Linked DNA regions of Homo sapiens. The protein of the gene in region 3 purifies or fractionates together with the protein of the main gene of each other region. This does not show direct contact. Each region holds a gene or a part of one and is shown on either strand. Other genes may lie near its edges.

What was found. Proteins that work in one complex are often made in the same cells at the same time.
Region 1: the proteins of ZFP41 (region 3) and LRP1 purify together in Homo sapiens (affinity purification with mass spectrometry; 3 studies listed by BioGRID and IntAct, with this or other methods). This does not show direct contact.
Region 2: the proteins of ZFP41 (region 3) and ARK2N purify together in Homo sapiens (affinity purification with mass spectrometry; 3 studies listed by BioGRID and IntAct, with this or other methods). This does not show direct contact.
Region 4: the proteins of ZFP41 (region 3) and MPRIP purify together in Homo sapiens (affinity purification with mass spectrometry; 3 studies listed by BioGRID and IntAct, with this or other methods). This does not show direct contact.

Annotation. Positions count from the first base shown.
Region 1 is NC_000012.12:57,131,190-57,134,986, forward strand, and holds part of LRP1 (prolow-density lipoprotein receptor-related protein 1 preproprotein), read left to right. Parts: intron 1-3,797. UniProt on the Homo sapiens protein: Endocytic receptor involved in endocytosis and in phagocytosis of apoptotic cells. Required for early embryonic development. Involved in cellular lipid homeostasis.
Region 2 is NC_000018.10:46,215,241-46,219,037, forward strand, and holds part of ARK2N (protein ARK2N), read left to right. Parts: intron 1-570; 5' UTR 571-640; coding exon 641-1,355; intron 1,356-3,797. UniProt on the Homo sapiens protein: AMPK substrate important for exercise capacity and skeletal muscle function.
Region 3 is NC_000008.11:143,253,439-143,257,235, forward strand, and holds part of ZFP41 (zinc finger protein 41 homolog), read left to right. Parts: exon of another isoform or gene 1-153; intron 154-3,797. UniProt on the Homo sapiens protein: A putative DNA-binding regulatory protein associated with meiosis in spermatogenesis.
Region 4 is NC_000017.11:17,164,164-17,167,960, forward strand, and holds part of MPRIP (myosin phosphatase Rho-interacting protein), read left to right. Parts: coding exon 1-3,752; intron 3,753-3,797. UniProt on the Homo sapiens protein: Targets myosin phosphatase to the actin cytoskeleton. Required for the regulation of the actin cytoskeleton by RhoA and ROCK1.

The sequences.
Region 1 (3,797 bases), on a different chromosome or scaffold from region 3:
TGCTTTCTCTCCAGGGCAGCAATCCTAGGGGCTTTCCCACCTCTTCTGCTTTCTCTTCTATGCCTGAAACTGCCTCTGGGGTCCCCTGCCCTTTGGGGAGTAACGTCACTCCCCACTAGCGACAAAATTGAGTGTACCTGCTGCTGGAGAGGTTGCAGAAAGATGGGGTGGAGAATGGGACTATTGAGGGCCCTGCTGAGATTGGGGAACATTTTCTAGTGGGGAGGGCACCCCCAGACAAATACAGCTCACAGAATAAGGCTGACTTCCTCCCTCCCTTTTTCCTGACCTTCCTCCACACACCCCCTTGAGCCGGCATATTACCAGTTACTAGAGTAGGTACAGTGGAAGTGAGTTATGAAGCTGGGGTGTTAGCTTCCTGGATCCCTGAGAGAAAGTTCTAAACTCCTTTCTCCCTGATCAGACTCACATCCTAAACGTCTCCCTTTGCCTCGTTGTCTTTTAAAGCAAGAATGTGTAAGAAATTCATTTTGGGGTTGGAGGGATATTTTGATGTTTAGGGCTGCTTCACTAGACATCTTTTTCTTCTGATCTTGTTCTCTCTCCTCTCTTCATTTTCTCAACCACCCTTCCACCACTGAGCCTCCCAAAGGATGACAGCCCAGGTCCTGGCCAGAGTCAGTTCCTGTCCAGATGCCCCCATTCTTCAAAACCCCTTCCTTACCTTTTGGGAAGCCCTTCCTTACTCAAGTCTATCTCTCTTTCCTCCTGCTGCAGTGTGAGCCCTTGCACATCAGAACCCCCAAGCCTAGGTTTATTCCCGCCCAGTACTCTCTTCTCAGGGTCCTCCTCACTCCTCAGACTCTTTACCTTTCAGGTCCTCCAGCTCTGCGTGTGGGCTCATTGCTCTTGGGGCATCTGGGTGCAGCTGAATGGTACTGCAGGAAGGCCCCTGACTTGGTAGTGCTGGGTATGAGCGATAGAGAACCTGCCTCCCTCTTCTGTCCCAGATTTCAGCCTGGTTAGCAGGATCCTGCATTGTTTGGAGAAGGAAGCAGTTGGCTTTGGAGTGTTTCCGGTGCAATGGCCTCAGGCACCAATATAAACCCTCCCTGGGAAAGAGGTGAGGGGTATATGTGGAGAGTTGTCCCTCTTGCTCCCCTAGGGGAGATGAAAGCCTCTCCCTCTCCCACCAGGCCTTAGCTTCCCTGGCTGAAGAGCTCCATTTTCCTCCCTCCTTTCTACCCTCCTGACTCCAGGGGTGGTAGTGGTCCCTATTCTGGGTCTCCCTTGAGTCAGGCACTGCCTAGGGCCGAGACTCTGTCTCTCCAAGATAGGACAGATCTTGCTCCCACCCTACTCTAGGCTCAGCGGGGTAGTCATTCTCTGGGTTCATCCCAGGACAACTGTGTCATCCCCTTGGCAATCTCTGGACTGAGCCCCCTTCCTGGCTTTTCTGGCTGTCTGTCTGTCTTTCTGTCTGTCTGTCATTAGTGTGCGCTGTCTTGGCTTTTTAGAACCTCTCTGTCTCTCACCCTCTCAGTTCATCTCTTACTGCCGAACCTTTGTGACATTCTCTGCCCTGCTTTCTGCGTCTCTGTCACTTGTCTTATTTTTCTCTGCCTGTCTCCATTTACCCCCATCCAGGCCTCTTGGTATCCCAAAAGCTTCTTGGGAGCAAGAGTCTCTCTGGGCTTTCCCACTCACCCCCTGGCTCCCTCCCCTCTGTTTTGGCTATTTTTCCCCCTTCCTGGCCAGACCCAGTGTCCAGTTCAGCACCAAAAGTTTCCTCTCCACTTTCCTCCGACTTCCTCTTTCTTCTTCCCCCTCCACTAATTTGGGGAATGGGTTTTGGAGAGAATGTTTCTGGAAGAAAGGAACTTGATACCCTTTGTGGGCTAAGAGGGAGAAAGGAGGTATTTCAGAAGGAAGGAGGGAGGTTAGACTTCTGGCAGAACTTCCTCCTGACCAGGAGCCTAAGAACTGGAGAAAGATGTAAGGAGTGAGTCAAGAACTTGGAGCTTTTACTCTGGTGAGCATAAGCTGTGTGTGTGGCTGGGGTGGGGGGAGAAGGAGAGGAGGCTTAGAAATGCCTGGTGAGTGATATGGTGACCTCTGGAGGCCTTCTGGGGGTCTGGCTTTTATTTGTGGGGAAAGGAAAAGCTGGTGGGGGAGGTCACGGGTCAGGCTAATGTCCTGCTGCATCAATATTGACTCAGAATGGAAGCGGAGACCCTTCCCCTCCCCTGGCTGTCCAAGCCACCCTGTCTGTCTGTCTGTCCAGGCCGCAAAGCAGAGGCCCAGACTCAGGAATGACAAAAATGTGTCTGAGCCTCAGGAAAGAGCCACTGGGCAACACCCAAAATACAAAAAATTCAGTGAAAACCTCTCGGTTTGGGTTTGGGAGGCCCTTGCTGCCCCACCCCCATAAGGTCGAAAATTCAGATTCCTGCAGGCTCTGTCCCCGCGCCGCCCCCCCACCCCACCCCCCGCACCTTGAGCATCCTCCTCCCACTCTGTTCCCTTAGCTATATCATGTGGTTCCCTTTAGAGAACCCCCCTCTCACCTAGCTCAGAGGGGAGCCTATCTCTCCTTCTGCTGTGTCCACTCTTAAAAAGGGCCCCAAGAGTCCCTGTCATGCTTTTGCAGTCCCTGAGTCTCCTTGTCCTTTAAGAAGCACCTCTAAGGTCTTAGCTCTCTTCCTTGCTCTCGCTCCCTCAAGGGGGTATCAAAGGATGGGTTCCCCTCCTCTGGAGAAGACTCCTTCAGGGTTGGACTTCGCTGTCACCCTCTCTGGCCAGGCATTCTCACCCCACTTCCCCACCCCCAAGGTCCCAGAATGGGACACAGAATGACAGCCAAGGGTCAAGCAGGGCAGTGGGGTCTGTGTTGTGTCTGGACGCACACCCAACTCTACACCTCCTGCCCTGGCTCCAGCTTGGTGGCCCTGGGGACCGTGGCTGGGCTGGGTGCCTGGGTTTGGGGGGGTGGGGCAGGGTGTTGGCCAAGTTAGCATGGCAGTCACATTCATCTTCAGGCAAAGCCGAGAACAGACGGCCCCTGTGTCCTGGTGTTCTTCCTCCAAACTCGCTCTCTCTCCTTCCTCTCTAGATCTCTCCTTCTTCTTCTCCTGCCTGTCTTCCCCTTCTTCTGTCCCATTCTTGCTCCTCTCTGTCTCCCCTATGCCCTTCCCTCCTCTCTGAGGAGCCCTGAAGGCCACCCCTTAAAATCCTCTCCCCACTGCCAGGGCCAGAGAACGACAGCGTTCTCCCTGCAATTTCCCTTCCTTGTTTTTTGTTTTTGTTTTGTTTTGTTTTTGAGACACAGTCTCACTCCATCACCCAGACTGAAATGCAATGGCGTGATCTCTGCTCACTGCGACCTCCGCCTCCTGCTAATTTTTGTATTTTTAGTAGAGACAGGGTTTCACCATGTTGCCCAGGCTGGTCTCAAACTCTTGACCTCAAGTGATCCGCCCATCTCCGCCTCCACCTCCCAAAGTGCTGGTACTACAGACGGGAGCCACTGCGCCCATCTGGTTTCCTTTCTTTCTTTCTTTTTTTTTTCTTTTGAGATGGAATCTCGCTCTGTTGCCCAGGCTGGAGTGCAGTGGCGCGATCTCAGTTCACTGCAAGCTCCGCCTCCCCTGGTTCACGCCATTCTCCTGCCTCAGCCTCCTGAGTAGCTGGGACTACAGGCGCCTGCCACCACGCCCAGCTAATTTTTCATATTTTTAGTAGAGACGGGGTTTCACCGCGTTAGCCAGGATGGTCTCGATCTCCTGACATCATGATCTGCCTGCTTCGGCCTCCCAAAGTACTGGGATTACAGGCAT
Region 2 (3,797 bases), on a different chromosome or scaffold from region 3:
CCAGGGCAACGGAGGTTGCAGTGAACTGAGATTGCACCATTGCACTCCAGCCTGGGTGGCAGAGTAAGACCCTGTCTCAAAAACAAACAAACAAACAAACAAAAACATTTGATGTTTCTCTATTGTAACTCCCCTCCTCCCACCTCCTTTCTTTTTGGATTTGAATGTAAAAGTAGTCATTCCAGGTAATGCATTTCTAGACTAGTTTTAAAGCATTCTTTTTCATTTATATCAAAGTCAATGAATGCATATTAATTATATCAGAGTTTTGAAGATTTCTTTGTAGAACACTTTAAATAAAATTGTAAACTTGAAAATGTTCATTACATGTTGGCCTTTCAAGTTAGAGGATTAATATTATGGCATTTTTAGTAGCTCAGTATGCTTAGATTTTGACCGTATTAAGTCCTTTGAATTTGACTGTTGATCAAACAAGCAGATAATAATATATATATATTTTAAAGGCCTGTGTAATAGTAAGTTTTGCCCCACCCACTTAGAAAGGTAGGCATGTTGTGTTGACTAAATAATCTGGCATTCTGTTTATTGACTTTGTGTGTTTTTGTACAGGTTGCTTTCCTGTTGCATCTTTGATATCATTTCCTAGACTCTACTCCATGATTTAACTTGAAATTCTGAAATGAAGATGGAGGAGGCAGTGGGAAAAGTTGAAGAACTCATTGAGTCCGAAGCCCCACCAAAAGCATCTGAACAAGAGACAGCCAAGGAGGAAGATGGATCTGTAGAACTGGAATCTCAAGTTCAGAAAGATGGTGTAGCGGATTCTACAGTTATTTCTTCAATGCCCTGCTTGTTGATGGAACTGAGAAGGGACTCTTCTGAGTCTCAGTTAGCATCCACAGAGAGTGACAAGCCTACAACTGGCCGAGTTTATGAGAGTGACTCCTCTAATCACTGCATGCTTTCCCCTTCCTCTAGTGGTCACCTGGCTGATTCAGATACGTTGTCTTCCGCAGAAGAGAATGAACCCTCTCAGGCAGAAACGGCGGTAGAAGGAGACCCTTCAGGAGTGTCTGGTGCCACAGTTGGGCGCAAGTCTAGGCGGTCCCGATCTGAAAGTGAAACTTCCACTATGGCTGCCAAGAAAAACCGGCAATCCAGTGATAAACAGAATGGCCGAGTCGCCAAGGTTAAAGGTCATCGGAGCCAAAAGCACAAGGAGAGGATCAGGCTACTGAGGCAGAAACGGGAGGCTGCTGCAAGGAAGAAATATAACCTGCTGCAGGACAGTAGTACCAGTGATAGTGACCTGACTTGTGACTCAAGCACGAGCTCATCAGATGATGATGAAGAGGTTTCAGGGAGCAGCAAGACAATCACTGCAGAGATACCAGGTAGAGGATGTTTTTTAAACTGACTGTAAAGTACCTGATGGCATTTCTCAGCTATCAGGTTCAGTTAGATGAGTGACACTTGAAAAAATCCAGGAGACCTGCAGCTCTGTGTAAATTTGAAGACTGCAGTCTATTAACAAGACATGGCCAATTTATAAAACCTGTTCTGAGGTTTCCAGTGAACTTTAGCACATCAGGAAAAACAAAATTAAAGGGTTAATGATAGGGACAAGATTATTTTTAAGTAATGGAATTTCTCATAAGTCTGTCTGTAACACATTACCTGAACTCCCAATCATTGCCTTTTTGGCACTGCTTAGATTTAATACTCACTGTTCGGCATCATTACTGAGTACATTCTCCTCAGGAATAGGCACCTTGCTTTATTATATAGCCACTGCACTTGAGCTTATAGTGTCTGAAATAACACATTCTATCTTTTGTTAAAGTTTTCTAATAATTTTTCCTCCAAAAACAGTAGTTTTATGTGTTTCCCCCATATTCAATGCATGAGAAGCTAGTTATCCTTGTTACAAATCTTTCTATCCTCACGTTGAAAAGAATGTCTTTCTGAAAAATTTCCCATTAGTTCCCCAAGTTTTAAAAAAGTTTGTTAGAAATCCGCTTGTTCTAGCTCTCATTGGTATAAGGGTCTGTAACTTATTACATATTTGGTAAATCTGCTTTCCCCATTCTTATTGCATCTGGTACTGTGTACTATAATACAAAGGCAGTCTTGAGATTTCATAGTGGAAGAAAGATGTATCTGAATGGTTCTTAAGTAGTGAATTCTTATTATCCAAGAGATCCTTACAATATGATCAGGAACATTTTGTAAACTGTATGGCATTGAATAGGTCATGGCAGTATTGTTTATTGCCACATTGAAGAGGGGCAAGTTTGGGTTTTCTAAAGTTTTATGGGTGACTATGTTTTTTCTCTCCCTGTTTTCTGAAAGCTTTCTGTTTCTACATGTGAAGACAGCATATTGCTGATATACAAAGAACATTTCAAGAGAAATCATATTGGTTAATGGAATCTATAGCTTCCCAAACTTATATAAATTCAGTAACAAGAATGATTGGTTTTAAAGCACTTTATAGGTGTTCAAGTTCTGATAATAAGTCTTGTCCATATAATATAAATATGAGTCTCAAACGATCTTTAGAAATGCTTTTTACTGTTTTAATATCTCTATTGGATTCCTTTGCTATTGTTCCTTGTAATAAAACTACCGGGAGGGGGATTTCAATGAAGCTCATCAGTTAAATGTATGAGAGAAACAGACTTTGGGGTTGTTCTAAGGCAGGTTTTAGGTATATATTTTAGTTTTACATGTATTAATATTTTTAAAAAAACCTTATTAATACCTGTAAAATTGTGCATTCCTATATCCTCTTCTAACCTCTTAATCAAGACCTTGATGGAACTCTTAATACAATACTTACTTCCACTTACTAAGCAGGATTTTATGTAACTACCCCAATACTTTGCCTTTTTGTGGAAAGGAAGAAGGTGGGTAAACAAAATTTAAAGTCAGAACCCTATTGTAAGGTGGCTTGAGAAATGTCTTCATAGGCACTTTCCCTGTTTTGCTTAAATAGGTTAGATGTGCTTTGTTCATATTTTCCTAATCTTCTTTCTAATTGAGTATCTTGACCACTGCTTAAAACTTAAAACACCAGTGTCTGTTTCTTGTCTCTTCTGAATTGTGTACTAACTGAACACCAAAGTAAATTAATTTGAATCTATAGTTTGGTTTCTATTGTTCACACCATTTAGTAACTTTGTGGCTTTTGAAAATACACATAGTTTTCTAAGGTAATCCTGGAGAATCAAATGGTAGATTGAGGTACAGGGTCACTGTATGTGACTGCCTGTGTGTGTGCTGGCAGTTTTGGGAGGTCTTATGGTATACCTGCCATTCCCATAAGACAGGTATGAATGATCTTTACTGGAATTATGCAAAGCAGCAAAAATGGAACAACTTAGAGTTCAAATATTAGGAATTTCATTTCAATTGTCCATATTGTTGTCTCTTGAAAAATTGTGACATTGTGAATTTTTAATGTAACAGTGATGTATCTTTCAGTTTACTGAGTCACCTTATGACTTTGGGGAAGAGAGGAGGCACGTTCAACCTTATAGTAAGAGCAGTTGTCGAAAAGTTGCCTAAATTGTAAAGGTAGGATAAATTATGAACTGACTTGAGTTCAACAACATGGACATTCAGGTGAACTTAAGCTGGATGGGCCTAACAGAATCTCTTGGATGTCGGAATGTTAATTCAGCTGTTTACACAGAATGGAAACCAAGTGGAAAAGTAAAAACCGATTATTGCCATACTCTTTCATTAAGGTACAACCAATTTAGTAATTCAGAAAATGCTCTTTATAAGCTTTTGTTTGGGCTCAGCTTAAAAGTTGAAGGCATTATCCTAAA
Region 3 (3,797 bases):
GGGGACCACAGAAGGTTGGGGACCACTGCTTTAAACAACTAGCTCTCCCGTGAAGAGCAGGTCCCCACCCTGCTGTGTAGGGCAACAGCAGATGTCAATGGCATATGAATGAACGAGCGTGGCTGTGCCAATAAAACTTTATTTACAAACGTAGGAGGTGGGCCGGATTTGCTTGCCGATCCTGTCCTAGGTGAAGGGTGCATTCGAGCTCCTGGTATAGTTTGGACGTCTGTCCCCTCCAGATCTTATGTGGAAATGTGATCCCCAGTGTGGGAAGGGGCCTGGCAGGAGGTATTCGGGTCACGGGGACAGATCCCTCGAGAATGGCTTGGTGCCCTCCTCACAGTAATGAGTGAGCTCTCACTCTTGAGGTTCACTGGAGAGCTTGTTGTTTAAAGCAGTGGTCCCCAACCTTCTTGGCACCTGGGACCAGTTTTTTCCGTGGACAGGGAGTGGTGTGGATGGTTTGAGTATGAAACTGTCCCACCTCAGATCATCAGGCATTTGATTCTCATAAGGAGCGTGCAACCTAGATCCCTCGCATGCAGTTCACGGTGGGGTTCGTGGTCCAGTGAGAATCTAATGCCACCGCTGATCTGACAGGAGGCGGAGCTTAGGCGGTAACGCTCACTCGCCTGCCACCCACCTCCTGCTGTGTGACCCACTTCTAACAGGCCATGGACCCGTCTTGAGGTCAGGGACTCCTGCATTAAAGAGCCTGGTGCCTCCTCCCGTCTCTTGCTCCCTCCCTGCAGCCTCACCAGAAGCCAAGCAGATACCTGTGCAGCCTGCAGAACCGCCAGCCACGTAAACCTCGTTACAAAAACTTACCCAGCCTCGGGTGTTCCTTTATAGTAACACACAATGAACTAACACAACTCCCAGTCCTTGCACACGCTCTCTGTGTCTTAGTGTCCTTCAGAATTAGCTGTTGGCAGGGAAGAGCCGGCGTCAGGAGTCAGGAACTCGGACACAAGAAAGAAACCAGGGGGCGGGACAGGGAGCTGCTCAGAGCAGGCATCCTCTGCTGTCTGTCGGGATGTGCCACAGAGGGTGGCAAGTGTGGACACGGCTGTCTAGGATGGCCCAGGAGACGGGCACGCATTCCCTGGTGGTGTCTGCATTTGGTTTGATTTTACTTATGATAGTATGATCGTTGCTTTTCCCCGTTACTGACAATAGGGAGCGTTACTTTTTTTTTTTTTTTTTTTTTGAGACAGAGTCTCATTCTGTTGCCAGGCTGGAGTGCAGTGGCACGATCTCAGCTCACCACAACCTCCACCTCCCGCGGTCAAGCGATTCCCCTGCTTCAGCATCCCGAGTAGCTGGGATTTCAGGCACGCACCACCACGCCCAGCTAATTTTTGTATTTTTAGTAGAGACGGGGTTTCACCATGTTGGCCAGGAAGGAAGCATTACTTTTAATGCCTGCACAATGACCAGTTGAATCGAAAAGGCACAGGTGACTTATCCACTTCCCAGCATGGGCATGTGGGCTGTTTCCAACCTAGGTTATTATAAATAATGCCACAATAAATATCTTTTCCATATTTAGGGCCAATAGGACGGATTCCCAGGTGTGGATTGACATCTCACCAAATGCCAGCCCCAGGTCATGCCCACAGAGACGCCTGCAGCAGCGCATGGCTGGCAGGACCACCTCAGCCTCTCTAGCAGCAGGCAGGTGGGTTCCTGATCCTAAACTCACACTTTAATCTGATGTCTTTGATTTCTAGGACGCACGTAGTGGGTCAAGAGCATAGCTCTCAAGTCAGGGGCTGTGGACTTGACCCTCACTCTGGAACTGTGGGGCCTTTGCCTCAGTTTTCCCAGGTGTGAAATGGCGATGCTGACAGTGCTTAACCCCACAGGGTTGCCAAGAACAAGAACCGTAATACGTGACGTCGTAAGCACACTGCTGGATCCTACGAACTGTGTGACCGTGTCAGCTCGCCCCGTGTCTGGTGTTAGTGAGATCAGAGCTCGCCCCGCGTGCTGGTGTTCTTGAGATCAGGGCTCACCCCGCGTCTAGTGTTAGTGAGATCAGAGCTCACCCCGCGTGCTGGTGTTAGTGAGATCAGGGCTCGCCCCACGTGCTGGAGTTAGTGAGATCAGGGCTCGCCCCGCGTGCTGGTGTTCTTGAGATCAGGGCTCGCCCCGCGTCTAGTGTTAGTGAGATCAGAGCTCACCCCGCGTGCTGGTGTTAGTGAGATCAGGGCTCGCCCCACGTGCTGGAGTTAGTGAGATCAGGGCTCGCCCCGCGTGCTGGTGTTAGTGAGATCACGGCTCACCCCGCGTGCTGGTGTTAGTGAGATCAGGGCTCTCCCCGCGTGCTAGAGTTAGTGAGATCAGGGCTCGCCCCGCGTGCTGGTGTTAGTGAGATCAGGGCTCGCCCCGCGTGCTGGTGTTCTTGAGATCAGGGCTCGCCCCGCGTGCTGGTGTTAGTGAGATCAGGGCTCGCCCCGCGTGCTGGTGTTAGTGAGATCACGGCTCGCCCCGCGTGCTGGTGTTAGTGAGATCAGGGCTCTCCCCGCGTGCTAGAGTTAGTGAGATCAGGGCTCGCCCCGCGTGCTGGTGTTAGTGAGATCAGGGCTCACCCCGCGTGCTGGTGTTCTTGAGATCAGGGCTCACCCCGCGTGCTGGTGTTAGTGAGATCAGGGCTCGCCCCGCGTGCTGGTGTTAGTGAGATCACGGCTCGCCCCGCGTGCTGGTGTTAGTGAGATCAGGGCTCGCCCCGCGTGCTGGTGTTAGTGAGATCAGGGCTCGCCCCGCGTGCTGGAGTTAGTGAGATCAGGGCTCGCCCCGCGTGCTGGTGTTAGTGAGATCACGGCTCGCCCCGCGTGCTGGTGTTAGTGAGATCAGGGCTCGCCCCGCGTGCTGGTGTTAGTGAGATCAGGGCTCACCCCGCGTGCTGGAGTTAGTGAGATCAGGGCTCGCCCCGCGTGCTGGAGTTAGTGAGATCAGGGCTCGCCCCGCGTGCTGGTGTTAGTGAGATCAGGGCTCGCCCCACATGCTGGTGTTAGTGAGATCAGATATTGGTTCACACACGAAATGGGGGCCATGCAAACTGACTGCCTTGGATACTTCTCCAAGGAAAAGATGAGAGAGCTGGCTTCAACAAAATCGGCATGGAAAACAACAAAAGATACATTTTTGGGGCCAGATGTGGTGACTCACATCTGTAATCCCAGTGCTTTGGAAGGCCGAGGCAGGAGGATCACTTGAGGCCAGGAGTTCAAGACCTGCTTGGATGACAGAGCAAGACCCTGTCTCAAAAATAAAAGATACATTTTTTTAAATCCACTTGGAAATTTTTTTTAACGTTTATGGTTATGAGAAAAATTGCATAACCAAAACAAAACCAGTCTGCCATCTTTTTTGTCCCTATCATTTGGCACAGACAGACGAACTCCTGACGTCACAGCAGGACCAAGAGCTGAAGCCGGAGGCACAGACAGATGAATTCCTGATGTCATAGCAAGACCAAGAGCTGAAGCCGGAGGCCGTCTAGGCTGACCTCTGCTTCGGTGTCTTGTTTAAAAGAAGCTCTTATTGCAGGAAGAGAAAACCTACATGACCCAGGTGAAAGATAAGACACTTAAAATTCAGTGATCATATGACTTAACAGAGCACCTGATGGCAGTGGGAGCCAAGGGCAGTATCCAACCCTGTGTGCTTCTGTTGCTGTTAGGAGAGGAGCTGGAAGTCAGGAGAGGAGCTGGAAGTCAGGAGGGAAGCACCCAGTGTAACAGTTAGAAGAAGAAAGGCCCAGGCCAGGCACGGTGGCTCACGCCTAT
Region 4 (3,797 bases), on a different chromosome or scaffold from region 3:
AAGACCTTCAAAGTGAGCTTGAAGCCCAGTGCCAGCGCCAGGAGCTGATTACACACCAGATTCAGACCCTGAAGCGTAGCTATGGGGAGGCCAAGGACACGATCCGGCACCACGAGGCTGAGATCCGGAGCCTTCAGGCACGGCTCAGCAATGCGGCCGCTGAGCTAGCCATCAAGGAGCAGGCGCTGGCCAAGCTCAAGGGCGACCTGAAGCGGGAGCAGGGCCGGGTCCGCGAGCAGCTGGAGGAGCGGCAACACAGCGAGGCGGCGCTGAGCAGCCAGCTGAGGGCTAGCGAGCAGAAGCTCAAGAGTGCTGAGGCCCTGCTGCTGGAGAAGACGCAGGAGCTACGGGGCCTGGAGACACAGCAGGCGCTGCAGCGGGACCGGCAGAAGGAGGTCCAGAGGCTGCAGGAGCGCATTGCCGACCTCAGCCAGCAACTGGGCGCCAGTGAGCAGGCGCAGCGGCTGATGGAGGAGAAGCTGCAGAGAAACTATGAGCTGCTGCTGGAGAGCTGTGAGAAGGAGAAGCAGGCATTGCTGCAGAACCTAAAGGAAGTGGAAGACAAGGCCAGCGCCTATGAGGACCAGCTGCAGGGTCAGGCACAGCAGGTGGAGACCCTGCAGAAGGAGAAGCTGAGCGCCACTTTCGAGGGCAGTGAGCAGGTGCACCAGCTGGAGGAGCAGCTGGAGGCACGAGAGGCCAGCGTGCGCAGGCTCGCAGAGCACGTGCAGAGCCTCTGTGACGAGCGGGACCTCCTCAGACAGCGGTTCCAGGAGCTGACAGAGCGCGTGGCCACGTCCGACGAGGATGTGGCTGAGCTCCGGGAAAAGCTGAGGAGAAGAGAGGCTGACAACCAGAGCCTGGAGCACTCCTACCAGAGGGTCTCCAGCCAGCTGCAGAGCATGCACACTCTGCTGAGAGAGAAGGAGGAAGAGCTGGAGCGCATTAAGGAAGCACATGAGAAGGTTCTGGAGAAGAAGGAGCAGGACCTCAATGAGGCTTTGGTTAAAATGGTTGCCTTGGGGAGCAGCTTAGAGGAAACAGAAATTAAGCTCCAGGCAAAAGAAGAGATTTTAAGGAAATTTGCAAGTGAATCTCCAAAGGACATGGAAGAGCCACGGAGTACCCCTGAAGAGACAGAAAGGGATGGCACTTTGCTCCCAGGCCAACCAGTCCAAGCCACTAGGGCACCTCTAGGCCTCCCACACACAAGGCTCGAGGATGAGGACGAGGACCTGGGGGCTCCTCCGGGGGAAGAGTACGGTGATGGCAGCCCCAGTAGGGAAGACAGCATGGTGCCCCCAAAGTCAGTGGAAGTGCTTGACAGGGAGGGCCATCAGCAGGGCACAGCCAAACTCGACCAAGGGGCACCTGGTGTTAAAAGGCAAAGAATCCGGTTCTCCACAATCCAGTGCCAAAGATACATTCACCCCGAAGGGTCTGAGAAGACCTGGACCAGCAGCACATCTTCCGACACCAGCCAGGACCGGTCACCCTCGGAAGAAAGCATGTCCTCAGAGCCTGCACCCAGTGTACTGCCTGCAACTGGCGACTCTGACACGTACCTCTCCATCATCCACTCCCTGGAGACCAAGCTCTACGTCACAGAGGAAAAGCTCAAAGACGTGACCGTGAGGCTGGAGAGCCAGCAGGGTCAGAGCCGTGAGGCACTGCTCGCACTGCACCACCAGTGGGCGGGCACCGAGGCCCAGCTGCGTGAGCAGCTCCGCGCCAGCCTGCTCCAGGTTGGCGCACTGGCCTCCCAGCTGGAGCAGGAGAGGCAGGAGAGGGCCAGGAGGGTTGAAGGGCATGTTGGAGAGCTTGGGGACTTCCAGGTCAAGAATAGTCAGGCCCTGATGTGCCTGGAAAATTGCCGAGAACAACTGAGATCTCTGCCTAGGGCCAGCCAGGAGGATGAGCAGGACGCACGCGCAGCCTCCCTGGCCAGTGTGGAGAGTGCACTCGTCAGCGCCATCCAAGCCCTGCAGCACTGGCCGGCCCCAGCCCATGGCGGGGCCCGTGCACAGCTGGAGACAGGTGGCACCGAGGAGAATGGGAAGCCTGCCTCCCTGCAGCAGTGCTCCCAGTCTGAGTTGACAGAGCAGGAGCAGGTGAGGCTTCTTTCTGACCAGATTGCTCTGGAGGCCTCGCTGATCAGCCAGATAGCAGATTCCCTGAAGAACACAACATCAGATGTCTCCCGAATGCTCCATGAGATTTCTTGGTCAGGACAGCCACCGATGGAATCTGCTGGGGCCCCCGTAGACACCTGGGCCAGGAAGGTCCTAGTGGATGGTGAGTTCTGGAGCCAGGTTGAGTCTCTGAGGAAGCACTTGGGGACACTGGGAGGAGAGGCAGTCGGTGCCTCAGGAGACGGGCAGCAAAGCATCCCACAGGGCCTGGCCCCCATCCTGGCCAATGCCACATGGGTCAGGGCAGAGCTCAGCTTTGCCACACAGTCAGTGAGGGAGTCGTTCCACCGCAGGCTACAGAGCATCCAGGAGACCCTGCGGGGCACCCAGACGGCCCTGCGGCAGCACAAATGCCTGCTGAGGGAAATCCTGGGAGCCTACCAAACCCCAGACTTTGAAAGAGTGATGCAGCAGGTCTTGGAAGCCCTCAGGCTTCCAGCGGGCCATGAAGATGGTGTTCAGCTGTCCTGGGACCTGAGCCCCTTAGGAGAAGTCCTGGGCCGAGACTCAGACAGCTCTCAGGAGCCCTTCGATGTGTCTGACCAGAGCCCTGGGGCCTTTGTTGCTATTCAGGAGGAGCTTGCCCAGCAGCTGAAGGAGAAGGCCAGCCTCTTAGAGGAGATAGCGGCTGCCTTACCATCTCTGCCACCTGTGGAATCGCTGAGAGATTGCCAGAAGCTTCTCCAGGTGTCCCAGAGTCTCTCGTATAACACTTGTTTGGGAGGCCTCGGTCAGTATTCTTCATTGTTGGTTCAGGATGCCATTATTCAGGCCCAGGTTTGCTATGCGTCCTGCAGAATCCGGCTAGAATATGAGAAGGAGCTCCAGCTCTGCAAGGAGTCCTGGCAAACCCGGGAGCCCTCCTGCTCAGAGCAGGCACAGGCAGCCCGGGCCCTGAGGGAGGAGTATGAGGAGCTTCTCCGCAAGCAGAAGAGCGAGTACCTGGATGTGATCGCCATTGTTGAAAGGGAGAATGCAGAGCTCAAGGCCAAGGCCGCCCAGCTAGACCATCAGCAGCAGTGTCTGGAGGATGCAGAGAGCAAGCACAGCATGAGCATGTTCACCCTGCGGGGCAGGTATGAGGAGGAGATTCGGTGTGTGGTGGAGCAGCTGACCAGGACCGAGAGCACACTGCAGGCTGAGCGCAGCCGGGTCCTGAGCCAGCTGGATGCCTCGGTCAGAGACAGGCAGGACATGGAGAGGCATCATGGTGAGCAGATACAGACCCTGGAGGACAGGTTCCAGCTCAAGGTCCGGGAGCTGCAGACGATCCACGAGGAGGAGCTGAGGACCCTGCAGGAGCACTACTCGCAGAGCCTGAGGTGCCTTCAGGACACCCTCTGCCTCCACCAGGGGCCACACCCCAAGGCCCTGCCAGCCCCTGCCCCCAACTGGCAGGCCACCCAGGGAGAGGCTGACTCCATGACGGGGCTGAGGGAGCGCATCCAGGAGCTGGAGGCCCAGATGGATGTCATGCGGGAGGAGCTGGGACACAAGGACCTGGAGGGCGACGCGGCCACACTGCGTGAGAAGTACCAGAGGGACTTGGAGAGCCTTAAGGTCTTAACGCCCCATTCAATTTGCAGAGCAGATCTTCCTTGATAA